2 separate regions of the Homo sapiens genome follow, and region 2 is linked to region 1. A link means that fine-mapping ties the variant in region 1 to the expression of a gene that starts in the linked region. Tissue or cell type: fibroblasts. Region 1 holds a variant in brackets; the other region holds the start of a gene. All regions are shown on one strand. Distances are from middle to middle.

Region 1 (9,040 bases):
TTGTAAGAAACAAACTCTCAAAGGCTTGAGTATATCTTAAATGATGAATGTAATGAACAGCTCAGATAGAATGTGCTAAGCTCAAAGTTGCTCCAGCCATGACGCCTCTATCCAGGGAGGTAGAATAACTCTGGCTTGCTGAATATTCCTATGGGCCAAAAAGCCACTCTTCAGATAAGCATTTATAAGCATTTGCTGAGTACTTCGTATGTGCTCCAAATGAGCACAGACTTGATGTTCCGTATTTCAATCATTCATTGAATTATTAATTTAAAAAAGAGGTTGTATAGCACAATGGTTAAGACTGTATATTCTGCAGTCAGATAGAACTAAAAATACATGTGTGTAAAGTACTTAATTATTTACTTGGCCCACAATGTGTGGACAATAAAAGTAATCTAATGTTCCTACCTGATAGTATTAGTAAGTTTCTTGTTGCCACTTCAAATTCAGTGGCTTAAAACAAAACAGATTTGTTACCTTATAATTCCAGAGATAAGAAGTTCAAAATAGGTCCTGCTAGACTAAAATCAAGGTGTTTTCTGTATACTTTCCTCAAAGCTTCAGGGGAGAATGTTTTCTTGCCTTTGTTTGCTGCTAGAGAACACCTGTTTGTGGTCTCCTAACATCAACATCTTCAAAGCCAGCGACAGACTGGCAAGTCTTTCTCACATTGAATAACTCTGACTCCAGTCCTTCTGCCTTCCTCTTCTATATTTAAGGGCCTTTGTGTTTACATTACACCCATCTCAATAATACAGGAAAATATTCTTATTCTGAGGTCAATTGATCAGCAACCTTAATTCCACCTGCAACCTCACACCCCCTTGCCATGAGGTTATGCCAAGACAACATCTTCACAGATTCAGAGATAAGGAGGTAGATATCTTTGTCAGCCATTATTCTGCCTACAACATACTGAGTAGTTAAACAATATTATTTACTCTACTAACCTTAACATTTTAAAACTATGCATAATAGGAAAAGAAATTGACATTTACAAGCTCCTTTTCTAAATAGTACAGTAATAGCAAGTAATAACAAAATAAACTAACTCTATGTGTCTTGTTCATTAAGCTAAACATATTTTTTACAAATAAAAGTTTATAAGAACAATTAAATATGATTGTAAATTATAGAAATGTAGAAATATATAATATATATATTTTCCAAGTTTTTACTGACCCCCTGAAATCCACACAATAACTCCAAACGTCCCTGGCCTTGGTGAGAAAGCTCTGTTCTGTTGGAGAATTACATAAAGAGATCATTGAGGAAAAGAATGGATTTCTAATGCTAAAGATGCAGCCCAAAATGGCCAAGCACCTCCTATTGGACCTGGTGCATAGCTCATGCTTAAAATCTTCTAGTTTCCTTGTTCTCTTTTCCTTCCCAGTGCCTGAAGGTTTCGAGAAGTCTGAGCATGTGAGTTAGGAAGCAGAAAAAAGAAAAGCCTAAATGAAATGGTGTAAGGAGGTATCAAATAAAGTAGCATCGGGTTTATTTGATATTTGAAGCCTTTCCATTTAGGATGTTAGATTTCTTAGGCAAGATAATTCTTTGCACTCACTGCATCCCTCTGACAAAGCTAGACAATGTGTATCATTTTCTGCATTTTAAGTCACATGACTAACACTTATTTCAAGAAGAAAATTAATGTCAAAGGCATAAAAAAAAGAACACAGAAATTTAAATCCATACACTTTTGCATTTCTACCAGTTTTTGTTACAAGTAATTATAAAGTGATTTTAAAAAAAAATCCACATGCCCACTGGAACAAGTCTACTATTTTAAACATCTGGCCTAGAAAATATATGCAAAGATACTTTATTTCACTTTCTTAAAGAATCATTCCTTGTCACCCAGACCTGGTCAAGTTCCTTCAGCTTAAACTTTAATGGTTCTCCTTAACAGTACTCATTACAGTAATAATGAATGAATAAATGTATACTTAATTATTTAATACCTTCCTTCTCCATCCCACAAGAATGTGAGCTCCATAATGGAAGGGCTGTGTTTGCCTTGGTTTCTGCTGTATATGCCGGTTTTGTCCAGTACCCTATGCCTATATAGCTTCTAAATGAAAAAAATAAAGGATTAACTAAACTTATTAATCATGAGACTCTTTCTAGATTGATTCTGTATGGATTATCTAGTTTAACTAAGTGTTATTTCCAGTCTTCTCTTATTACTCTTCCATTTTGTGTCTGCCCCTTCTCCAGGCTAGGTATTGATACTTAACCAGTCTCTCCCACGGTTTTCTAACCTAGCTCAAGCTTAATTTCTTTTGTCTTAGAAATTATAAGATCTGGTAGTAATATACAAAACTAGCTTCTGCCTTGACCTCAGCCTCTTTCTTTTGTGAACTGCCTTCATATGCTGCCCAGAAGGTGGTATATAATTTATCTAGTTCCTACTCTTAGGGTGAATGTTGGATACTCCATCTGACAGCTTACACCAAACTTATTACAAAAAAGGGAAAAAACTTGAATTCTTTATTAGTTAAAACTCCTGAATTAGAAGTACTATAAACTAAATTTAGCTAAAGTAAGTGAAAGAGAGAATTTATTATAAAGATATAAGTACATTTTATTAATGACCAAGAACAGAAATGCAGGCTGGTTTTAGAGAAACACTGGAACTAGGAAGCAGAAGACATAAAAATCCCAGGAAATTCCCTTCCTCCTCTCACTTCTGCTTCTTACTGAGCATTAAGTTCATTTATTCACCTCTTTCTCTGAACACCCCAGTGATATCATAACTAAGATATCTCTTCTACAGTGTCCTAAGATTACATCTTATTCATTCAAGTGACTCTCCTTGTTTTCAATTTAAATTTTACAGCCCAGATTTAAAGTCCCAGGAAAATAATGCTAATTAGGCCATCTTGATTCAGATGGTCACTGGATTAAAATAAACCATCATCAAAGAGGAAGAATCAGATTGTGCCAACAGGGCTATTATGGACCCACCCCCATGCTGCTATGGATTAGCCAAGTGATGAGAGGAGTAGTCAGGAAGGAGAAAAATATGAGAGACGGAACAACACTCTAATATGTCTACAAAAATAAAATATATATTCAAAAATCTACCAGAAAATGGAATTTAATGCTTTTCAGGTCTCTAGATTAAATATTAATTCATTCGTATACATTAAAGAGAAGAAACAATAAATGTAAAGATTTTATACTTTTTACTATATTAGAATTTTAATTCTGTTCCAGCCTGGGCAACATAGCAAGATTCCACTGCTACAAAATAATTTTTTTAATTAGCCAGTCATAGTGCATGTATGGAGTCCCAGGAGTTTGATGTTACAAAGCTATGATTGAGCCACTGCACTCCACCCTGGGCAAAAGAGCAAGACCCTGTCTGCCACTGCCTCCCCTCACCGACCAATCCACCACAAAAAAAATTATTTTAATTCTATGGACAATGAAATAGAACCAAAATAAGGGCAAGGTCAAACTAGAAGATATTAACAAATAAATAATACCCAAAAATCTAGATTATAAAGGAGCTCATACAAATAAGATAGATGGTCCTAGCAAAGATTTTTTTTTAAATAGGAATATGTTCAAAAATTCTTAATTCACAGTAATTATAGTCACAACATTTACAATGAAATTGATCTTTGAGATAAAACTGGTAAAAATCAACACAAAATTACTGAATTACTCATATATAAGAATGACTCATAGGACTATCAGTATTTGTGAATAAAGAGTTTTGGAAACCCCAAGTGAGATGACTAATTAGCAAAGATTGTAATGTCACTGGGACTGAGAGAGCTACAAACTTACCACAAAAGAAAGAGGGTTTATCAAGCAGGGGTATGTTGGCA[T/A]GCAACAAAAGGAAACGGAGACCAAGAGGGCTAGATTCACAGGGAATCTCCACCATTGTCCTGGAGAGAGGATGTCTAGTCAGCTGACATGAGCTTCCTTGCCTATGTGAGAGATATGTCTGACAATGAGGAAATGATGCCTTAAAATTGATTGACATCACCACAAAACATTTCATTTCCCTGGCTAACACCACTCAGGAGCCAGTATACTCTAATCCCTGACAAACTGCTCAGGTCTCTTTGGAGAAAGCTACATTTTGCTGGTCAGAGTACCAGAGGGGAAAGTTACACAGAGATTCAGAAATCTTCACAGGATCTCCCTTCCCTCAAGGCTTTGGCTGAGTATTAATCAGGGTATTTCTGTGAGGAAACTCTCTGAGGATGGAAAAAGAACAACCCAAAAGGATTAGAGGAGAAAATTTACAGAGTTTTCACAGGGCCAAGAATAGTTTCTCTACCCACTAGTCAGAGTGGAAAATGGGGCATTGAGTAGTATATGCATAATGGCTTTTCTTCAGTAGCGTGACAAAATTAGCTGCTCTAATCCCACCTAACAAAGATTAAATTCAAGACCTGAAAGAACCCATCTGTTTCCGAGTAACTTAACTATGTCCCAGAACAAAGCTCAACAACATTTATAGTAATACAAAAATATCCATCACTCAATGAGGTAAATTTCACAAAGTCTGCCATACAAACATAAAAAAGCAGGAAAATAAGACTCATAACGAAGAGAAAAAATTAAATCAAAACTGACCCAGAAATTATGAAGATGATAGAACATATAAACAAAGACATTAAAACAGTTATTACAACTCTATCCAGGTGTTCAAGAACCAATAGGTCCCAGATATCTATGTTAGTTTTCTGCCTTAATGATGTGTCTAACACTGTCAGTAAGGTGTTAAGTCTCCCACAATTATTGTGTGGTTATCTAAGTCTCTTTATAGGTCTCTAAGAATTTGTTTTATGTGGCCCAATGTTGGCTGCCTAAATATTTAGGATAGTTAAGTTAAGTTAGGATAGTTAAGTTAAGTTAGGATAGTTAAGCTTAATAGAGGAAATATTAAGCATTTTAAATAGAAACATGGATGATATGAAGAAGACCTAACTCAAACCAGAGATAAAAATAGCAAAGTAAAAATAAGCTTTAATGCTTAATTCAAATCATACATAAAAATTAACTTAAATCATAGCCCTAAGTGTGAAAGTTAAAACTGTAAAACTTCTAGAATAAAATATAGTAGAAAATATTTGTGACCTTGCTATACTGTTTATATTGTTTTTTGTGTTATTTTTACATACTATGTAGAAAGCATGAACGTAAAAGAAAAACTGATGCTTGTACTCCATCAAGATTAAAAATGACTGCCCTTTGAAAGACACTTTGACAAAAATAAAAAGGCAAGATAAAGTCTGGGAGTAAACATTTACAGTACAAATTTCTGACAAAGGATTAGTTTCCAGAATATATAAAGACCTCTTACAACTAAATAATAAGAAAAACAATCAAATTTTAAATGGACAGAGAGTTGAACTGATGCATCACATAGAAAGATATATAAATTGCTAATGGGCATATGAAACATCATTAATCAACAGAAAAATCAAAATTAAGTCCACCAAATGCCCGTTAGAAATTGCTAAAGTTAAAAGTCTGACAATACAAAATACTGGCAAAAATGTGGAGCAATTAGAACTCTACTATAATGTTGGTGGGAATAATCAACCATCATTTGGAAAACATTTTGTGAGTCCCTTGTAAAGCGAAACATGAACAGAACATTCAAACCAGTCATTTAATTCTTATTTACCCAAGAAAATTAGTAATACTTGTTTACAGAAAGAAGAAGACATTTATGCAGCCAAAAACACATGAAAAAAATGCTCACCATCACTGGCCATCAGAGAAATGCAAATCAAAACCACAATGAGATATCATCTCACACCAGTTAGAATGGCAATCATTAAAAAGTCAGGAAACAACAGGTGCTGGAGAGGATGTGGAGAAATAGGAACACTTTTACACTGTTGGTGGGACTGTAAACTAGTTCAACTATTGTGGAAGTCAGTGTGGCGATTCCTGAGGGATCTAGAACTAGAAATACCATTTGACCCACCCATCCCATTACTGGGTATATACCCAAAGGACTATAAATCATGCTGCTATAAAGACACATGCACACATATGTTTATTGCGGTACTATTCACAATAGCAAAGACTTGGAACCAACCCAAATGTCCAACAATGATAGACCGGATTAAGAAAATGTGGCACATATACACCATGGAATACTATGCAGCCATAAAAAATGATGAGTTCATGTCCTTTGTAGGGACATGGATGAAATTGGAAATCATCATTCTCAGTAAACTATCGCAAGAACAAAAAACCAAACACCACATATTCTCACTCACAGGTGGGAATTGAACAATGAGAACACATGGACACAGGAAGGGGAACATCACACTCTGGGGACTGTTGTGGGGTTGGGGGAGGGGAGGGATAGCGTTGGGAGATATACCAAATGCTAGATGACGAGTTAGTCGGTGTAGCGCACCAGCATGGCACATGTATACATATGTAACTAACCTGCACATTGTGCACATGTACCCTAAAACTTAAAGTATAAATAATAAAAAAAAAGATTTAAAAAAAAAGAACTTGTACAAGTATATCCAACACAGTGATGGGTAAACAAATTGTGATATATTCAAACAATGGGATACTACTCAGCAGTGAAACAGAACCAACTACTGATATACGCAACAGCATGGATGAATCTCAGAATCTTTATATAGTGAAATAAAACCAGGCATAAAAGACTATACACTGTATGATTCCACTTATGTAAAAATCCAGAATAGGCAAAACCAATCTATAGTGATAAAAATCAGATCAGTGTTTGTTTGGGGCAGGAATAAGTGCAGGTACTGACTGCAAAAAGGCACTGGGTAATTTTTGAATGAAGGAAATATTCTATATATTCGGTTTCGTGAAGGTCATACAGGGAGAACATTTGCCAAAGCTCATCAAATTCTGCACTTAAAATGAATGCATTTTGGTATGTAAATTAAATCTCAATAACATTGATTTAATTTTTTAAAGAGTGTATAGCAGCATTCCATTATCAAACTGAAGTGGCGTATGTGCAACTGAGCTCAATTAGTCCTGAAAGCACAGGTGTGTTGTGCTATAGAGAAAAATTCAGCAAGCTCACATAAGTTTGGCATAAGTTGCCCTTCACACCAGCCAGAGTAGAAACATGAGATATGGGGTAGAATTTGAACTGATGGCAAAATTTGAACTTTTGGCATCAAAAGCTTGCATTGACAACTATACCACACACCACATTTGGGACCTCAGGGGGAGTTCATCATCAAGTGACTGAGGTAAAACAAATCAGTCCTGGTTTGTAGATATGTCCACACAATAGTCTTGTACCATGTAGCATTTCAGTCCCACTATGTAATGGCCGTTAAGGATTGGGGAAAAAGGAAATCTTTCTAGTGGGCAGAACTGCATTCAATTTTTTTTTTCTTTTTTGGAAAGAGATGCCATATCTACACTGGACAATGGAAAGTGGTTTTCTCATTTCTCCGGATTTTGAAGAAAATAAAATAAGGGATTGATAACACAAAGGTCTGAGTAAGAAATGGTAAACCTCTGGGAATGGTAAGAGTTTGAAATTTTTTGTGCCCCAAGTAATTGCTCACAAACAGGCTTCAACTGCAAGGCATTTTTCGAATAATAAAGTCGAGATAACGCTTTCTGTGAATATTAGCCACCCTCTTCCCAGCCATTTGAGCTTGACCAATGGGCTCATAAATAAAATGGTCAAAGTGTCAGTGATAGAGACTATGCATGGGCTCAAAAGCAGGGTCTTCTCTTCAATAAGACTATTCTAGCTATCACAGTTGCTAAAAACATAGTATGTTGTCAGCTGAGTTTGATGCTGATTTCCTTCTGTGGCACTATTCTTGAGGGGATCTGCTAGCCATGTTGACTACCTCCATCATGGAAGAAAGAACAGCATGTTTTACCAGAATAAACACAGTAGATATGAATGTGCCATCCCTGTCTGCTCTGCCTTTGTAAAGTACCAGTATCCACAGGCTAATGGAAAGCCTGATTCTCTTTAATGATGCCCATATAACTTTGCTCCTGGCCAAAGAACACATTGACCAGCAAAGAATGAGGGAAATGTTCACATCTGTAGAATTTATTGGTCTTACAGTGTACCACATCACCTCAAGTTGGCCTGCCTGACATAACAGTGGAATGCCCTATTAAAAACTCATTTTGGGTGCTGGCTAAGTAATAATACCTTGTTTGGCTATGTGCTGTCCTGAAAGATTTCATATATGTTCTGAACTAGCAAACAATATGACAACATGACACTATCTTTTCCCATGGCCAGAAGACATGGATAAAGGAGCCAAGAAGTGGGAATGGGAGTGGTTCCTCTCTCTGTTATTCTTAAAGACCCAATCACAAAAGATTTGCTTTTTGTATTAGTCCATTTTCACACTGCTCTAAAGATACAACTTGAGACAATGTAATTTACAAAGGAGAGAGGTTTAATTGACTTATAGTTCTGCATGGTTGGGGAGGCCTCAGGAAACTTACAATTATGGCAGAAGGCAAAGGGGAAGTAAGGCACCTCTTACATGGCGACAGGAGACAGAGAAAGTGGGGGGAACTGCCAAACACTTTTATAACCATCAGCTGTTGCGGGAACTCATTCACTTTCATAAGAACAGCATGGGGGAACCATCCCCATGATCCAATCACCTCCCACCAGGTCCCTCCCTCAACACCTGGGGATTACAATTCCAGATGAGATTTGGGTGGGTATAAAGATCCAAACCATATCACTTCTCTTAACCACTTTTGGCTCTGCAGGTTTAGAGGACTTAATTTCTAAAAAATGAATGCTTACACTAGTGGACCTAACAATGATTCTACTGAATGTGAAATTTAAACTATCACTTTGAATTCTTCATGCCACTAAGGCAACAGTCAAAGAAGGGCTTGCTGTACTAACCGGAGTGAATAATATTGATTGTCAAGGAGAAATAGAGTTGCTGCTGCATAATAAAGGCAAAGAGGATTCAAAGGATTCTCTGGATTGCCCCTCAGTACTTGTATATCTAGTGTAAAAGGTTAGCAAAGGAGTAGAGCAACCCAAAAA
Region 2 (6,769 bases), 140 kb after region 1:
AAACAAACAAAAATCTACTAATTCCTAATATTTGCCACGCACTTAGCTATGTAGAAGACCCACCAGATTTCTACTCAAGTGATTTCAATCCATACTGGTCGCATTAGTTATGCACAAAAGGAATAATGTACTTACCTAAAAGTTTTATTGCATGCTTTTGATTTTTAGTGAGAAACCATCTGTGTTGGTTTGCTGATTTCTTTTGAGAATTTCCTTTCTTCTCTTTGCATCGCCTCCCCCACTTCTCACTTAAGTATGTGTCTTTGGGTAAGTTACTTAATCTATAACCTTGTTTTCTTATTTGTCAAATGGGAATAATTGTACCAAAGTCTTCACGGAATTGTTGACTGAACTCAATGAAACACTGAAAATCTTGATGTCTCAGTGTGACATTGTATACTCTAAGACAGTGCCTAGAACATTTGAAGAACTTTCTAAACATTACCTGCTATTATTATTACTTCCATGATAGAGAAATTAATAAAGTTTCATGAAATGAATCTTCTATCAGCTGTCCCCCAAAATGGGCAAGGTAAGAATTGTGTGCACTTTGTCCTGGCACTGTGTGAAAATATTTAAAGAAGTTTTTTGTTTGTGTGTTTAAACAAACAAATTACCACGTCATGAACTTCTTTTACATTTCTTACAAGAGTAGAACAGATGAATTAGTATACAGACAGTAGGGTTTTGTTTGTTTTTACTGGGAAAAATTGCTGCTAAATTTTAGGAAGTTCTGCTGTCCTCAAAAAGAAAAATATGTCCCTCAGTTTTTTGTTACCTGGGATCTAGGAATGTTCTCTAATTAAAGAAATGGAATGGTGATGGTGTGTTGAAAGGTATAGGTTAATGAGTTAAAAAAAAAAAATCTACATTGCACCCTAAGGAAGGATGAACTTAACTATGCTGAACTGAATTGACAAGGGTTGAGCTAGTCAGTGTGCTAATGAGCAGGCTACTATTCTCATAGAATTTTTAAAAGTCTTTTCTGCCTGATATGTATGTGTGTATAATATGTATTTATATATGTATATATTTGTGTGTATATTTATTACATTTTTGTTTCCACAGGCTCTGTCATAAGTCTGGTCATTAATAGCATATATTTGATTAAAAGAATATGTGGCTTGGTAAATTATGTGAATGTTATATTAAAATGAATTTCACATTGTCTTGATTTACAAAGGCTAAGATGTCTGAGAAACTGAGAGATGTCAATCAACAGACTATTGTTTTAGCAATTGTACATAACACATAAAAATTCTGAATCAAAGTTATTATGTTATTCAATTGTGACCATACCTATTTTTTGTGACATTTTACAAAAATGAATAAAGTATGCACCATACAGTCTTACCACAGAAGTAAGGCAGGGTGGCATATGGCGAAACCACTTCAAGCTGCTGAAGTAGTTAACTGTGAAATATTTTACTGTCATAATATAGCATTATTTTCTGCCAGATGAATCATTCCGAAGAAGCTGTTTTCATGGTCAGTGTAAAAGTCCTTTTGTTAAATACTTATGTCTTAACTACCTACTAGATATTAAAAAAAACAAAACCACACACACACCAGACCTAGGTGCAAGGAAGGGATAATAAGCCCTGATGCAGTTCTTAGGTGAGAACTGGAAAGGGGCCGGAGGGTTTCAGAGCAACAAGCAAAGTCAGTGAAGCAGAGTAAATCCAAATACTTGGCCAATGACAAATAAACCAGAAAGGAGACACGCCAGCTGTTCACGCTGGAAAGTTACTGATCGTTTATTCTGGTTCAAGTTTTATTTATTCTATGAATAAGGGACAAGTTTTCGATGGGGGTGGGGTGTCTTATTCCTTATTACAAGAATAAGGAACGGGGAGTTTTCAAGGCAGGCGGGTGTTTCCTCAGGGCGCTTCCACACTCCCCTTTCAATCAGCAACCGCTCGGGGGGACCTCCACCTTGGGACGGAACCCCAGGACGCCTCTCCTCGGACGGCGGGGGTTTCTCTGCGCGCGTCCTCGGTCGTCTGGTCGCACGGCTTACCGAACTCTCGCCTCTCAAATTCTGAGTTCTGGAACAGGGCAGCGAGCTGCGCCGGCTCCCCTTTCTCGCTCGCTCCCTCCGAGCAGCGGCTGGCGGCGGGGCCCAGGCTGCGAACAAAGGCGGCGCGGGGCGCGCGGCCGGGGCTGGCGCGCGTCTCTCCGGCAGGAGGCGGTGGCGGCGCCGCGCCCGAGCCCGCATTCCTCAGAAGCGCCCGGAGCCCGCGGGGCGACGTCACCCCCGGCTCCGCCCCCGTCCCTCCCCGAGCAAAGTAACTCTTGACTAACAGGAGCAGCCTCCGCCGAGCATGGAGAGCTGCCGCCGCGGCCGGCCGGCGACGCTGGCGACGCTTTCGCCCCTGAGGTAGTTTGGCGACCGCGAAGAAGGAAAAAGGGCGGGCGGGCGGCTGTCCTCTCACCGTCCTCACCCCGCGAGGCCCGGCCCGCTCCTCCGTCGTGGATTTCGCGGCGATCCCCCCGGCAGCTCTTTGCAAAGCTGCTTGAAACTTCTCCCAAACTCGGCATGGATACGACTGCGGCGGCGGCGCTGCCTGCTTTTGTGGCGCTCTTGCTCCTCTCTCCTTGGCCTCTCCTGGGATCGGCCCAAGGCCAGTTCTCCGCAGGTGAGTGGCCGGGGGGCGTCCCCGACGAACGCCTGGAGTCCTGGGCTCACGAGGGGTGAGCCAGGTCCCCGCTAGGGCTGGGGACAAGGATCGTGGGGAGCTCTCTCTGTCCGGGGGTGGGGAACACAGGGTAGAGGGAGGGCTGTCCCCAGAGTTCGTGCCAGGTGGGACGCGGGGCACCCATTGTTCCTCTCCGAAGCTTGCTCGGGGCTCAGGCTGGCACGGTCTAGCCGGAGAGTGTGGGGACCTGCTGGCTTCGGCGTCTCGCGTGGCCTGCGCCGGGCTAGTGGGGAAGAGAGAAAGAAAAAGTAGTTACGACTCCCGTGACGGCACTCTGTTGCTTGTGGTGCGGGTTTGTTGCTGTCTGCCACTTGGGTGTTTAAACAAATTCCCTGGGAAGCCATTGTCAGAAATGTGGAGATTCGAAGGGACTGACCTCGGCGCGCTTTGCCAGGTGCTTTTTGTCCCGGGAATAACCTCCCCTGACTATTGTCTAACTACTTCCCCGTCCCTCCCGGAGTCCCCTTTTCTCCTCCCCCAGCTCTGGGTTGCTCCCGGGCTTGCCCTGTGCGCTCGGGCACTGCTTGGAGCATGTTCTGTGTGTGTGTTGGCGGAGCCCTGTAAGATGTGTTGAAATGCGGTTCTAAGGACCCACTCTGAGCGTTCATGGGCATCGAGGTCTGGGCGCCTGGTGGAGGAAGCCTGACTCGCGCGTGGGAGCCCGCTCCTCGGGCAAAACCACCGCCAGGCTGGCCCCGCGCTCCCCGGATCCGGCCTGGGGCTCTGGCCCCGCGCTCCCCGGATCCGGCCTGGGGCTGGAAGCGGACTGTAAATGTCTGCCTTCTGCCGGAGAACCCAAAAGGAGACAAGTGGAGCGTCTCGCTGTAGCCCTGGGGGTTCTCGGTCAAGCCGCTCAGAGAAGTCCGTGAACCCTGGCTCTCCCGGTCCCGCCCTCTGTTCCCCTCCAGTTTTGTTATCCTTCGTGTAGGTTGGTTGCTTCTTTCGTTCTCTCCTCTGGGGGCTCTGAAGTTTCACCAGGTGGACGCTGGGGAGCGGGCTCCCGAGCACTTGTCTACCTCCCGCCAGTCCTGACAACTTTTCTGGCCAACCTACCCAGCTTCGCTTGGCTGGCGAGCGCATCTGCTGCTGGGGTTCGCGGTGCAGATGGAGACGCAGTGGTGGCCAGAGGGTGATGGAGAAGACGGGAAAAGCGACAGCCACGCTCCTGGCTGAAGCCGCAGGACGCAAATAACTTACTTTGTACCTGACAGTTTCTCACGTTGTTGTGGAGGCCCTGTTTCCTGGAAATAAACTCAAATTGTTGTTTTCTGGAGTAATCGTTTATTTCCCTTCCATTGCTCTCCTACCCCCGCCCCATTTAGAACTCTGTAAAGGGAGTTAAACAACAGATTCAGGTGGCAGCATGTGTCGTACATTCAGGCAGAGATTATGAAATGGCAGCACGCAGAGGAAAAGCCCTGTATATAATTGATGTACGCAGAGGGTAACAGCTCTATGCAAAAAATAATCCAATGGTTTAATTGAATTCTTTCTGGAGTAAGCATTACTGCATGCATTTCTGACATATAATGCCCGTTAGCATTGAAACCGTGCTTGATGTAACTCATTATATGCAGGCAAGTTGGAGTGAGTATTGATTTCTGCACAGTGTTTGTCACTGCACGGAGAGCCTACGCTTGAAAAGGCTTGTAGTTTGTTAATTGAAAGTTTGAACTCTACCAGTTGCATAATTAAACTTACATGTATTCAAGAGTTGCAACTATTAATGTCTCAACAGCGATGGATATATTTTCAGCAGTTAGAAAACTTTTTCTCTTTTTAAATGTTATTTACCCTTTAATTAACAAATAAATACTACTTTTCCTCCAGCTGAATGTGAAAATGAGCTTTTCTGATACCTGGAGTTTAGATACGTACAATAAACAATTGTGTTCTTAGATATCTAGTTCTAAGTACTTTAACTAAATATGCCTGGCTTTTCTTTAGTGACAAAGCATAACATTTGACATGATGTTGTATATTTAATTAATATAATGTGCATTCCTAAAAAGTACAGTAATCACAGGATTGCATCTCAAGATTTTGCCCTTTAGGAATGTATGCCCAGAAATGAATGTCTTTTATTCCCAGAGTTTAAAGTCAGATTGTGGATTTGCCTTTCTCCACAAATTATAAGTTTGTTTTGTAAATACTTCCTTTTTTTTCTGGCTACCATAAATCATTTGATATTTTATTGTCATAAAATTCTATGGCAGTCAGATTTGTTGCAGACATAGATTAGAGATGTATTGAAGATTGGAGGTGTATTCCATATTGCTGGTTTTTCTTATATTTTACTTTAACTAGTGAACTTTTATTCCTTTTGAGAAATTTAAATAAACCCACTTTAAAAGTCCAAGACAAATTCATGTTGAGAATTTAAAAATATCTGAAGTATGTCTTTCAAATCATACTCATTAAGATCAGTTTACTTTCCGATATCATGTGGTTCCTAATGTAGTAAGCTTCAAAAGCAAATTTTGAAAGGCTGAGCATTGTTGGGACTTTGATGTGTCATATACTTATTCAGTTTTCTTTGTTTAAACCAAAAATGTAAGAGTGTTTTCATTATTGTGACTTTTTTCTTAGCTTTTGCAGTTAAAGTGTAAAACTGCTGCACTGTGAGCCTCTTTAAAACCAGAACGTTCTGTAAATCCCAACTCATACATTCTTTCAGTTTCACCTCTCACTTAAAATGACACCCATGTCATATCTGAGGAAACCGAGGCATAGAAGAATAAAGAAGTATTAAAGTTTATTCACTGGGTTGTATAGCTGTGATCTCTTGATATAATGTAAGAAAGTTTTCTGTAGAAGGACTTAGATGACTGACGAAACCAGATGCAGGTAAGGTGACTTGGAAACTCAGCTTTCTCCTCTGTAAAATGGGGATAATAATACCCAACTTGACCTTTCCACATGTTTTTTATGATTAAATGAAGTAATTTATGGGAACTAGCACTGTAAATTGTAAAGCACTGTGCAGCTATCTGGGGTGTAATCATCATTAAGTGCCTTAGTCTCAGCTTTTTACTCCTTCCAAATTCTCTCTCCAGTAAGTGCAGGCTGTTCAGGATTTGTGTGTGAGTGTGTGTGTGCGCACGTGTGTGTGTGCATGTGTGTGTGTGTTTTCACTCAGCCAGTCATTCATTTAATTATTGTTTAACATAGTTATTGTTAAACATAAACATACTAGATTGGCCAGACCATAATTTTGTCAGCACAATGATCGATTATCCTTAATTTTTTTAACTTACCTCGTATAAATCCTTACTTGAGTTAGACCCATGGAAGAGTCACTATTAACATTCCTGGCATTTCTAACTACAGAAAAAAATATTTTTAGTCAGTTTCTTTAGCTGTTTGTTTAACTGTTGGTTCAGGTTTTCAACTCTGTGTTGAGAATAATATGTAGCTTTCTAGATGCAGTCTTATCAATGACCTAGAGAGGGACTATTGTCTCTCTTGTATGATAGGAGCCTGGAAATACAGCTCGAGATCCTGCTTTGTCTATAGTTCCTGACATGTCACCCTGTTGATGTGCACTTAGAATGCTGTAACTCATCTAAGCAGCACCTGAGCAGTATCTGACTCCTTGTTGTCTCTTTAGGTGAGATTAATTTCTCTTATACTTATTACCTGCTAGGAAGATACTTTGGAGCCAGCTTGCTTTAAGGTTTGCCTGTTAGTTTTTTTTGGTTTTGATTGGCTAAATATCCCTCGATCCCTCAATTCATTAAAACTCCACGTTCTAATCACTAGCAATCATATGTAGCTGGACATTTCCAGGACTGTTTTTTTTTCTCTCTCTAGTTCTCTTGCATCTGACTCTTGATTTTCCTAGGTCGTGAGATGTAGTTTTGTGTCTGGCCTACCCAGACGGAAAGAGGAGAGTCTGGCTGCTGTTTGGACATTGGCATGTGTGCTGCTGACAGCTCTTCTCTTTGTGCTCATAAAAGTGAATTTCAAAAATAAATCAACCCCTCTGCCACTCTGCCCCCTCCCACACTCCCTCCTACTCTTTTCTAGCAAAAACAGAGCCCCACATATATATACACAAGATCACAGCC

Evidence for each region. PIP is the estimated chance that this variant, and not a neighbour inherited with it, causes the effect.
Region 2: PTPRK starts here. The variant in region 1 is fine-mapped to the expression of PTPRK in fibroblasts (GTEx, PIP 0.91).

Annotation. Positions count from the first base shown.
Region 1 is chr6:128,651,063-128,660,102 of GRCh38, reverse strand. All of the region lies in intron 1 of LOC105377998 (a long non-coding RNA gene), which reads right to left. Among named protein-coding and RNA genes, the nearest start is that of PTPRK, 130 kb to the right of the region's middle. RefSeq lists an enhancer at 3,368-4,567. The variant T/A (reference allele first, on the strand shown) is at 3,846.
Region 2 is chr6:128,516,129-128,522,897 of GRCh38, reverse strand. It overlaps PTPRK (protein tyrosine phosphatase receptor type K), which reads left to right and starts at 2,299. Exons shown (of 30, transcript NM_002844.4): 1 at 2,299-2,639. The coding sequence starts at 2,540. RefSeq lists enhancers at 1,937-2,531, 2,532-3,125.